Homo sapiens: one gene and its partner. The protein of the gene in region 2 purifies or fractionates together with the protein of the main gene of each other region. This does not show direct contact. Each region holds a gene or a part of one and is shown on either strand. Other genes may lie near its edges.

Evidence for each region.
Region 1: the proteins of TSC22D3 (region 2) and SGK1 purify together in Homo sapiens (affinity purification with western blotting; 2 studies listed by BioGRID). This does not show direct contact.

Annotation. Positions count from the first base shown.
Region 1 is NC_000006.12:134,202,974-134,207,122, reverse strand, and holds part of SGK1 (serine/threonine-protein kinase Sgk1), read left to right. Parts: intron 1-608; exon of another isoform or gene 609-712; intron 713-4,149. UniProt on the Homo sapiens protein: Serine/threonine-protein kinase which is involved in the regulation of a wide variety of ion channels, membrane transporters, cellular enzymes, transcription factors, neuronal excitability, cell growth, proliferation, survival, migration and apoptosis.
Region 2 is NC_000023.11:107,765,335-107,769,483, reverse strand, and holds part of TSC22D3 (TSC22 domain family protein 3), read left to right. Parts: intron 1-4,149. UniProt on the Homo sapiens protein: Protects T-cells from IL2 deprivation-induced apoptosis through the inhibition of FOXO3A transcriptional activity that leads to the down-regulation of the pro-apoptotic factor BCL2L11.

The sequences.
Region 1 (4,149 bases), on a different chromosome or scaffold from region 2:
TCCCGAGTAGCTGGGACTGTAGGCGCCCGCCACCATGCCCAGCTAATTTTTTTGTATTTTTAGTAGAGATGGTGTTTCACCGTGTCAGCCAGGATGGTCTCGATCTCCTGACCTTGTGATTCGCCCGCCTCGGCCTCCCAAAGTGCTGGGATTACAGGCGTGAGCCACCGCGCCCGGCCTTGTTTATTTATTCTTACCTAACCCAACACTCGAATACACTGCAATTAATTTTTTTTTTGTTTTTTTTTTTTTTCTGGAGACGGAGTCTTGCTCTGTCGCCCAGGCTGGAGTGCGGTGGTACGATCTCGGCTCACTGCAACCTCCACCTCCAGGGTTCAAGCGATTCTCCTGCTTCAGCCCCCCAAGTAGCTGGGACTACAGGCATGAGCCACCATGCCTGGATAATTTTTGTATTTTTAATGGAGACAGGGTTTCACCATGTTAGCCAGGCTGGTCTCGAACTCCTGACCTCAGGCAATCTGCTGAGCTCGGCTTCCCAAAGTGCTAGGATTACAGGTGTGAGCCACCATACCTAGCCTTGCAATCAATTTTACCCTAAAAGTCCTTTTGTTATGTCTTCTTTTCAGTATCTAAAACGTATATACTAGATCCCTTTGTCGTTTATAAGTGTGATGATTGGGTTTTCATGTTCCTGTGTGAGATATGCCTCCTTCAAGCCTTGTTATGATGTCTGCACATTACCTGCCTGTCATTTAAAAAAAAAAAAAAAAAAAAAAAATATATATATATATATATATATATATATATATATATATATATATATCATCAGGTACAGCTTTGTGGATTGTGAAGCATATTTAAGTGTTGGGAGGAATGAGGAATGAGTCTATTTGCTGGAGTAGAAGACAGAGGAGTTGAATAAAGTGGGCAAACACATGAGTCCAAGTTTGTTTTCTAGGGCAAGGAAGAGATTTGAAAACCTAGGGTGAATCATACTTCAGAATACTTATGGGAGGGCATGTATACTTGCACTATGATATTAGGGCTGTACATCTAATCAGAATCAGAAGAATGCCACTTTATGAGATCGGAGAATATGCTTCAGGTTATATGATTAGAAATTACGCTTAGACAAAGAGTAGGGTATGTTCTCATAGCAAATAGAAGACATTTAAAAATTCTTTTTCACAAACACACATGAGCCGTGAGGCCTAATTGCACAAAGTAGACACTAGAAATAAAAGGGAAGGTGAAGCAAAAAGGAGCTAAAACAATTAAGAGAGTGATAATAGAGCTTTCACCTTTTCTAATGAAATAGGTCTAATGAAATAGAAAACTCACGCTGATATCTGATATTTGTATTATGCCTCACGCTTTTACAAGGAGTATTCACAGAAATCTAATGTAGTGTTTGCCGCAATCCCTTGAAATAGGAGAGACAGCCCTTTCCTTGTTATGCCTCTATTAGAAATGAAATAATAAGCTGAATAGGTTAGCTGACATATCCAAAGCTCGCAGCCAGAAAATACCAAGGCTAGGAGAATGGAGAGTGGACTGCCCAGTTCTATAGCACGCTTCTTAGGAAGAAGCAGCTCTCCTAGCAGAAACAGCTTGGGCTAAATCTGTGCTATAATCTGTTCTTCATAAAAGGGAGTCAGAGGCTGTGCCTATTAGCAGAAACAGGAGGACTTGAGAAGGAAAGTGAGAAACTTTCTGATGGCTTTTTTTTTTTTCAAAGACCAGACTTACGGTCTAAACATTATCAATTTCATCTGTCAAAAAATTGTTTTCTGTCTTGTTTTATTATATCTTTTGAAGAAAGAAGAAAAAACATAAAAGTGAATTAGCCTATTTATGCCATCATTTCAGTCCATCAGCAGTATACCACCACAATAAACAAGCCATCTGCTGGCTAATACTGCTAGTAAGATCTACAGCACATGTGTTATGAAGAAGCAATGTAGAATGAAACATTACCAAAGGAACATAAATGATTCTTGATGTTATGTAAAGAAAATGGAAAGGGAGGGAAATCTGTACAGGACAGGTCTAGAAAATGGTGCTTGACCAGCAGCCCTCAGGACTGCTCTATCTGTGAAGCAGCTATTCTTTATTCCTTTACTTTCTTAATAAACTTGCTTTCACTGAAAGAGAGAAAGAGAGAAACAGAGAAAGAAAGAAAGAAAGAAAAAGAAAGAAAGAAAGAAAAGGAGGGAGGGAGGGAAGGAAGGAAGGAAGAAAGAAAAGAAAGAAAGAAAAAGAAAATGTTGCTTGGACAATTTTTGAAGCCTAAATAAATTATGTTACGGGCTGGGTGTGGTGGCTCATGCCTGCAATCCCAGCACTTTGGGGGGCCAAGGTGGGTGGATCACCTGAGGTCAGGAGTTAGAGACCAGCCTGGCCAACATGGTGAAACCCCTTCTCTACTAAAAATACACAAATTAGCCGGGAGGTGTGGCACGTGCCTGTAATCCCAGCTACTTGGGAGACTGAGGCGGGAGAATCACTTGAACCCAGGAAGCAGAGGTTGCAGTAAGCCAAGATTGTGCCATTGCATTCCAGCCTGGGCAAAAAGAGTGAAATTCCATCTCAAAAAAAAAAAAAAAAGTTACAAGAAAAACTAATGCAGAACACATAGAGAAATAGGAATAGAAATATTTCAGACTTACTCTTTTTTTTTTTTTTTTTTCCTGAGATGGAGTCTTGCTCTGTCGCCCAGGCTGGAGTGCAGTGGTGCAATAGACATACTCATTTTTAAAACGTTTTTATTACTTTTCCTTCATCAGTAGTGTTACAAAGAATGGAGTGTCCCTCCTACAAGAGCTCATCTCATGAAGATCCTTCCCAGTCACCAACTTAACCAACTCATAAAGTAGGATCTATGTCTAGAGTAATTATTTATTTATTTATTTATTTATTTATTTATTTATTTATTTATTTTTTGCCTAGTTGGTCAGTCCATTACTAAGAGTGTTTTAAAATCTCCACCTCTAGTGGTAGAATTGTCTTTTGGTTCTTTTAATTCAGTCAATTTTTGCTTTATGTATTTTGAACCTCTGTTATTAGGCACATATACTTTTTTTTTTTTTTCTGAGGTGGAGTTTTGCTCTTGTTGCCCAGGCTGGAGTGCAATGGCATGATCTCGGCTCGGCTCACTGCAACCTCTGCCTCCTGGGTTCAAGCAATTCTCCTGCCTCAGCCTCCTGAGTAACTGGGATTACAGGCACATGCCATCACTCCCAGCTAATTCTTGTATTTTTAGTAGAGACGGGGTTTTGCCACGTTGTTCAGGCTGGTCTCTAACTCCTGACCTCAGGTGATCCACCCACCTCAGCCTCCCAAAGTGCTGGGATTACAGGCATGAGCCACCGTGCCCAACCACACACACATCTTTATGATTATTATTATTTCCTAATGAACTGATCATTTTATCATTAGGAAATTTCCTTCTTTATCTCTGGTAAAAGTCTTTGTTTTAAGTCTATTTCTTCTGATAGATACAGCCAGTCCAATCTTCTAAAGCCTACTTTTCACATGGCATATTTTTCTTTCCATTTTCTTTCAACCTGTGTCTTATAGTTAAGGTGCTTATCTTATAGACATCATGTGGTTAGATTTTCCTCTTAAAATCCTATCTAATGATCTCTGTTTTTTTTACTTGTGATGTTTAGCCCCTTTATACTTAATGTAATGACACAGTTAGATTTAACTTTACTGTTTTGCTATTTGTTTTCTATATGTCCCTTCTCTTCTTTGTTTGCTTATTCTTCCTTTCCTGACTTCTCTAGGATTATTTGAATAGGTTTTAGAATTTAATATTAATTTACCTGTTGACTTTCTAGTTATCCTCTTTGCATCACATTTTCAGTGGTGCTCTGAAGATTACAATAAATGACTTTATTTTTATTTTTATTTTTTTGAGACAGAGTCTCACTCTGTTGCCCAGGCTGGGGTGCAGTGGCACAATCTTGGCTCTCTGTGACCTCCACCTTCTGGGTTCAAGTAATTCTCCTGTCTCAGCCTCCCAGGTAGTGGGATTACAGGCACGTGCCACCACGCCTGGCTAATTTTTGTATTTTTAGTAGAGACGGGGTTTCAGTATGTTGGCCAGGCTGGCCTCGATCTCTTGACCTCAAGTGATCTGCCCACCTCGGCCTCCCAAAGAGCTGGCATTACAGGCATGAGCCA
Region 2 (4,149 bases):
CCTCCCACTACCCCCTGGTAACCTCTATTCTACTTTCTGTCTCTATGGATTTGCCTATTTAGATATTTCATATAAATTGAATCATACAATATTTTGTGTCTGATTTCTTTCACTCAACATGTTTTAAAGTTCATCCATGTTGTAGCACATATCAGTACTTCATTCTTTTTATGGCTGAATAAAATTCCATTGTATGGATATACCTCTTTTGCTTATCCATTCATCTGTCAGTGGACACTTAGGTTGTTGCCCTCTTTTGGCTATTATGAAGAATGCTGCTATGAACACTGGTGTACAAGTATCTGTTCAAGTCCCTGCTTTTAATTCTTTGGGGTATATACCTAGGAGTGGCATTGCCCAGCACCTACTTTTCAACACAATTTTGTGGTCTACTGCTCGTAGTCAACACATACGTAGGAACCTGTCATAAAATGAGCAAATGTCTCAGGGCATTCCTTGAGGAGAATGCTCCCTCTCTAAGCCAGCTGCTGGTGCTAGTGATTACAACGAAGAGAAAGCTACAAAGTTTGGCAAAGTGATGGTGCTGCCTGGGAATGGACTTTTTATGGGGGAAATGACATGCTTTGGAGATTGCATCCATGAGTTGGAGACTGGCAAAAGTTTTAGTGTGTATCTCTCATGAATGGCCAAGGTCTAGCATACCTTTTTAAAGAGTAACATGTGACACCATTACTTGCCATTAACTACTTTGTATGGATTTGTTTATCAGACCTCTGGTCATGGTGACAGCCCACTGGGAATAGGGTCCTATGGGACTGGAATGTGGCAAAGCCAACTTTGGAGGAGAGAGGTAGAGAGATGGGGCTGGAGTCCATGGAAGGCCTAGCTTGGGCTGTTACAGCACGGGGCCTGGACAGCATGAGAGTTCAAAAGATCTGTTTGGAAAGTTCATGCTCTTAAAGAAAGGTGGGAAGCACAGAGCTTGAATTTCATCTACTCCTCAGTTTTTGCCAGGAGTGGACTATTATTTACTGAGTCCACACCTCAGCAAATAATGCTTTCCAGGGTGACCTTAGTTTTCTTCCCTGCCTGAAGAGAAGGTTAACACTCCTGCTTATATTTGCACTTGCAGATAATCCAACAAGCTCTCCATTCCAGGTAGAGGGTTGGCTCCTTTCCAGATCAGGTACTGAAGGCCAGGGAGTCTGGGTAAAATGGAGATGGATGTATCTGGCCAAGACTGCCAAGACCTCTAGGCATCCCGGGTGATGGAACCCTGCAGAGTTCTTGCCCCCACCTGGTGGGTGGGTTGGTTGGGAGGAATGAGTTTGGCCATGTCTGCACCTGGTGGTGGCTGTTGCGCTGTTTGCTCATCGTGATTCTGCTCCTACCTGAACTTTCTCTTCTTCTTATGTAAGCCATCCCTAGAGATAACTGTAAAGCCATAATCTGCCATGGCTGGCTGGGCTTATATAACAAATTGGTTGGTATCGTGCAATAGCCTCTTGAACCCTGGAGAAACCAATGTGCTAAGTTGAGACTAAAACATGGGTTCATTTGATGGGGTATTTTGTGTGCTCAGTGAACTCAGGGGAGAGGAGTCCATGACCACAGGGGTCAGAAAGATGAAATTTCCTTTTAAATAAAGAGAACAATAATGGCCCAGAACATACTGTGCTGTCCCAAAGTCTGCAATAATGGGACAAGGGTTAGGGCATTGCTGTAGCACCACAGCTTTGGCAGAAAAGGCCCTCCACAGAACCCCATGGGCTAGGAGGAGCCCCATGAAGGCCAGAAGGCTAGATCCCAGTTTCAGGGCAACCTAGGTTTGATGAAGAGTCAGGTCAGGGAAAATGTCTTTTGGAGGCCACTGTCTACCATGCTGAAATCCAGCTTAACTAGAGTTGGAGTGGGGCTAAGATGCGATCTGTGAGAGCAGAAAGCAAGCTTTTCTCGATTCTATTCCAGGCAGGAGGGAATTTCATCAGTAGGCAAGGCAAGTTCACTTGTACCTTCTAGCTGAAAATTCCTGCCCCAAAGTAGCTGTGGCCCTTCTGGAAACTGTATAAGAGGCATTAAGATCCCAGCCAGCACAGAAGACTGAATGGGAAGCTTCCCATTGTGCAGACACTAGCCCGAGGGAAAACAAGAGCTGGAAGCAGGCTGGATCACTGATGATCCAGGCTCACCATTGGCCTTCCTCTCCTGGGAGCCACTTTCCTCAAATAGGTCCAGCCAGAAATCGGGCCCCTGCCTATGGACAGAGCACACAGGGACCTTCCCCATCCTTCCTCGAAGGAAGACTTTACTCACAGAATAGGCTTGAGTATTCAACCCACTTCTTCTAATCTTCTCTTCAGGGGAGATGGAGAGCAGCTGTTCACAGCTTAGGGGTCTGGCCAGGATTCCCGCTCCGTGCTATCTAGGCTGGTGATTGGCTAGAGCTATCCCTAAGGAAGAAGGGGGTGAGAAGTGAGAGGAAAGGAAGCGACTCCAGCAGCTCCTTCCTGGCTTACCCCACTCCCAAGACACCCCTCCTTCAGCGCTGCCGTTTAGCCTCACTCCCAGACTAGGCTGGGCCTAGGCCAGCCTGAGGGCCCTGACTCATAACTAGCACATCTTATGTAACAGCCAGGTTACTGAGGCATCACACTTCTGCTTGCTCAGTGGTAGGCTTCCCTGGGGACAGGCATTTGGAAGCCTGCTGGGGGTCCAAGTCAAGCTCATCATACTTCCCAAGGAAAAGCCTACTCTCCCCAGTGTCAGGCAAGCAGTCTGCTCAGAGGCAAATGCCAGGCAGCAAAGCCTGACCCGGTCCCACACTCAGCCTCCACACTCAGCAGTAAATGTAAGCAGACAGGCAAGCTGGAGTGGACTTAATTTGGCTTGAGGCATTTTGGAGGTGGCAGGGAGGAACCTACTATCACCTGATAATGCACTGCTAAAGAAACTGCGTGGTGCATGGAGAGGCCCCAGAACAGGTCGCAGAAGTCCCTCTTCCTTTTGTATCTGCTTGTTGGTTCAGAAACTACTGGGTGGGTTGGGGTGGGGGGAGTTGTTGGGGGGGGGGCGGAAACTCCAGGCTGACTGACACCAGGTGAAAGGGTTTACCGGAAGGTGGAGGAGCTGTTTAAAGGAAGGCCTTTCAAGAGCCAATTCCCAGTCCACGCTCCATGAAGTCTCAAAGTCCCCAGGTTGACCTGAATTCACAGTGATTCTTAGCTCTCTGCCTGGCCTATTCAGAAAATTACATTACCGGCTTAGTGGAACTGAGCCCCCAGTGAAGTCAGTATTGCCAGATTCTATGACAGATTTCTCTAATAACAAATGTGACTATCTACAGCACAGAATACCCCCATCAATCTAATATTCCACTAGCTCAAGGTTTGTAACTAAACCAATAGCTCCTCTTCTTCTCTTCCTTTGTCTTTTCCCCAGCCTGTCTCACGTGTGTTGCCATCAAGTAAATGGCTCACAGGCTGTGAGTAGGTGGGGACACTGCTCTCCACTCCAAGAAATAGAGGAGAAACAGGGAAACAAAGTCAAAAAGGTGGTGTGGGAATTACCAGCAGGCATGATTTGTATCCAAAGCTGACTCATAAGTTCTTGGACAAGCTCAAGACTACCATCTCAGGGCTCAGAAGAGCTTGGCACCCTTAGTCCCCCAGATCACAGAATCCAGTGAAAATTAGGGGACCTGAGATGGAGATGCAGAATTTTCCTTTGTGGGACTCCTCCCAGGCTTCCAGCCCCTTTCTTCTCCCTATCCCCTCTGCCTTTTTGGTTCATAGGCTGTAGCAGTAAAAAAGAAAAAGAAACAAAGAAAACAAAACAAAGAAATAATAAATAATAAGAAAAAGAACTGCTCAGTTTTAAGGCAACATAATCTGCCTGCCCAGGTGCACAGAGAAATGAATGATGGCAGCACCTCATTCGGCCTTGTACCAAAGCGACCAAGCACTTCAATTAATCAATCCATCATTTATTGACCAAGGGCCTGCTATGTATTGAGTACCGACTGAGGATTTATTGAATGCCTATCCTGCTAATCACTGTAGAGGACACAGGAGACGTCAGAGTCTAGGACCAGGGCTCTGAGGAGCTGAGGGTATAGCAGGAAGGAGTGGAGCAGCTGCACCCAAGGCCAGTGGGGAACAAAGCACTGGCGTGACCTCAGGCCTTTGCAAA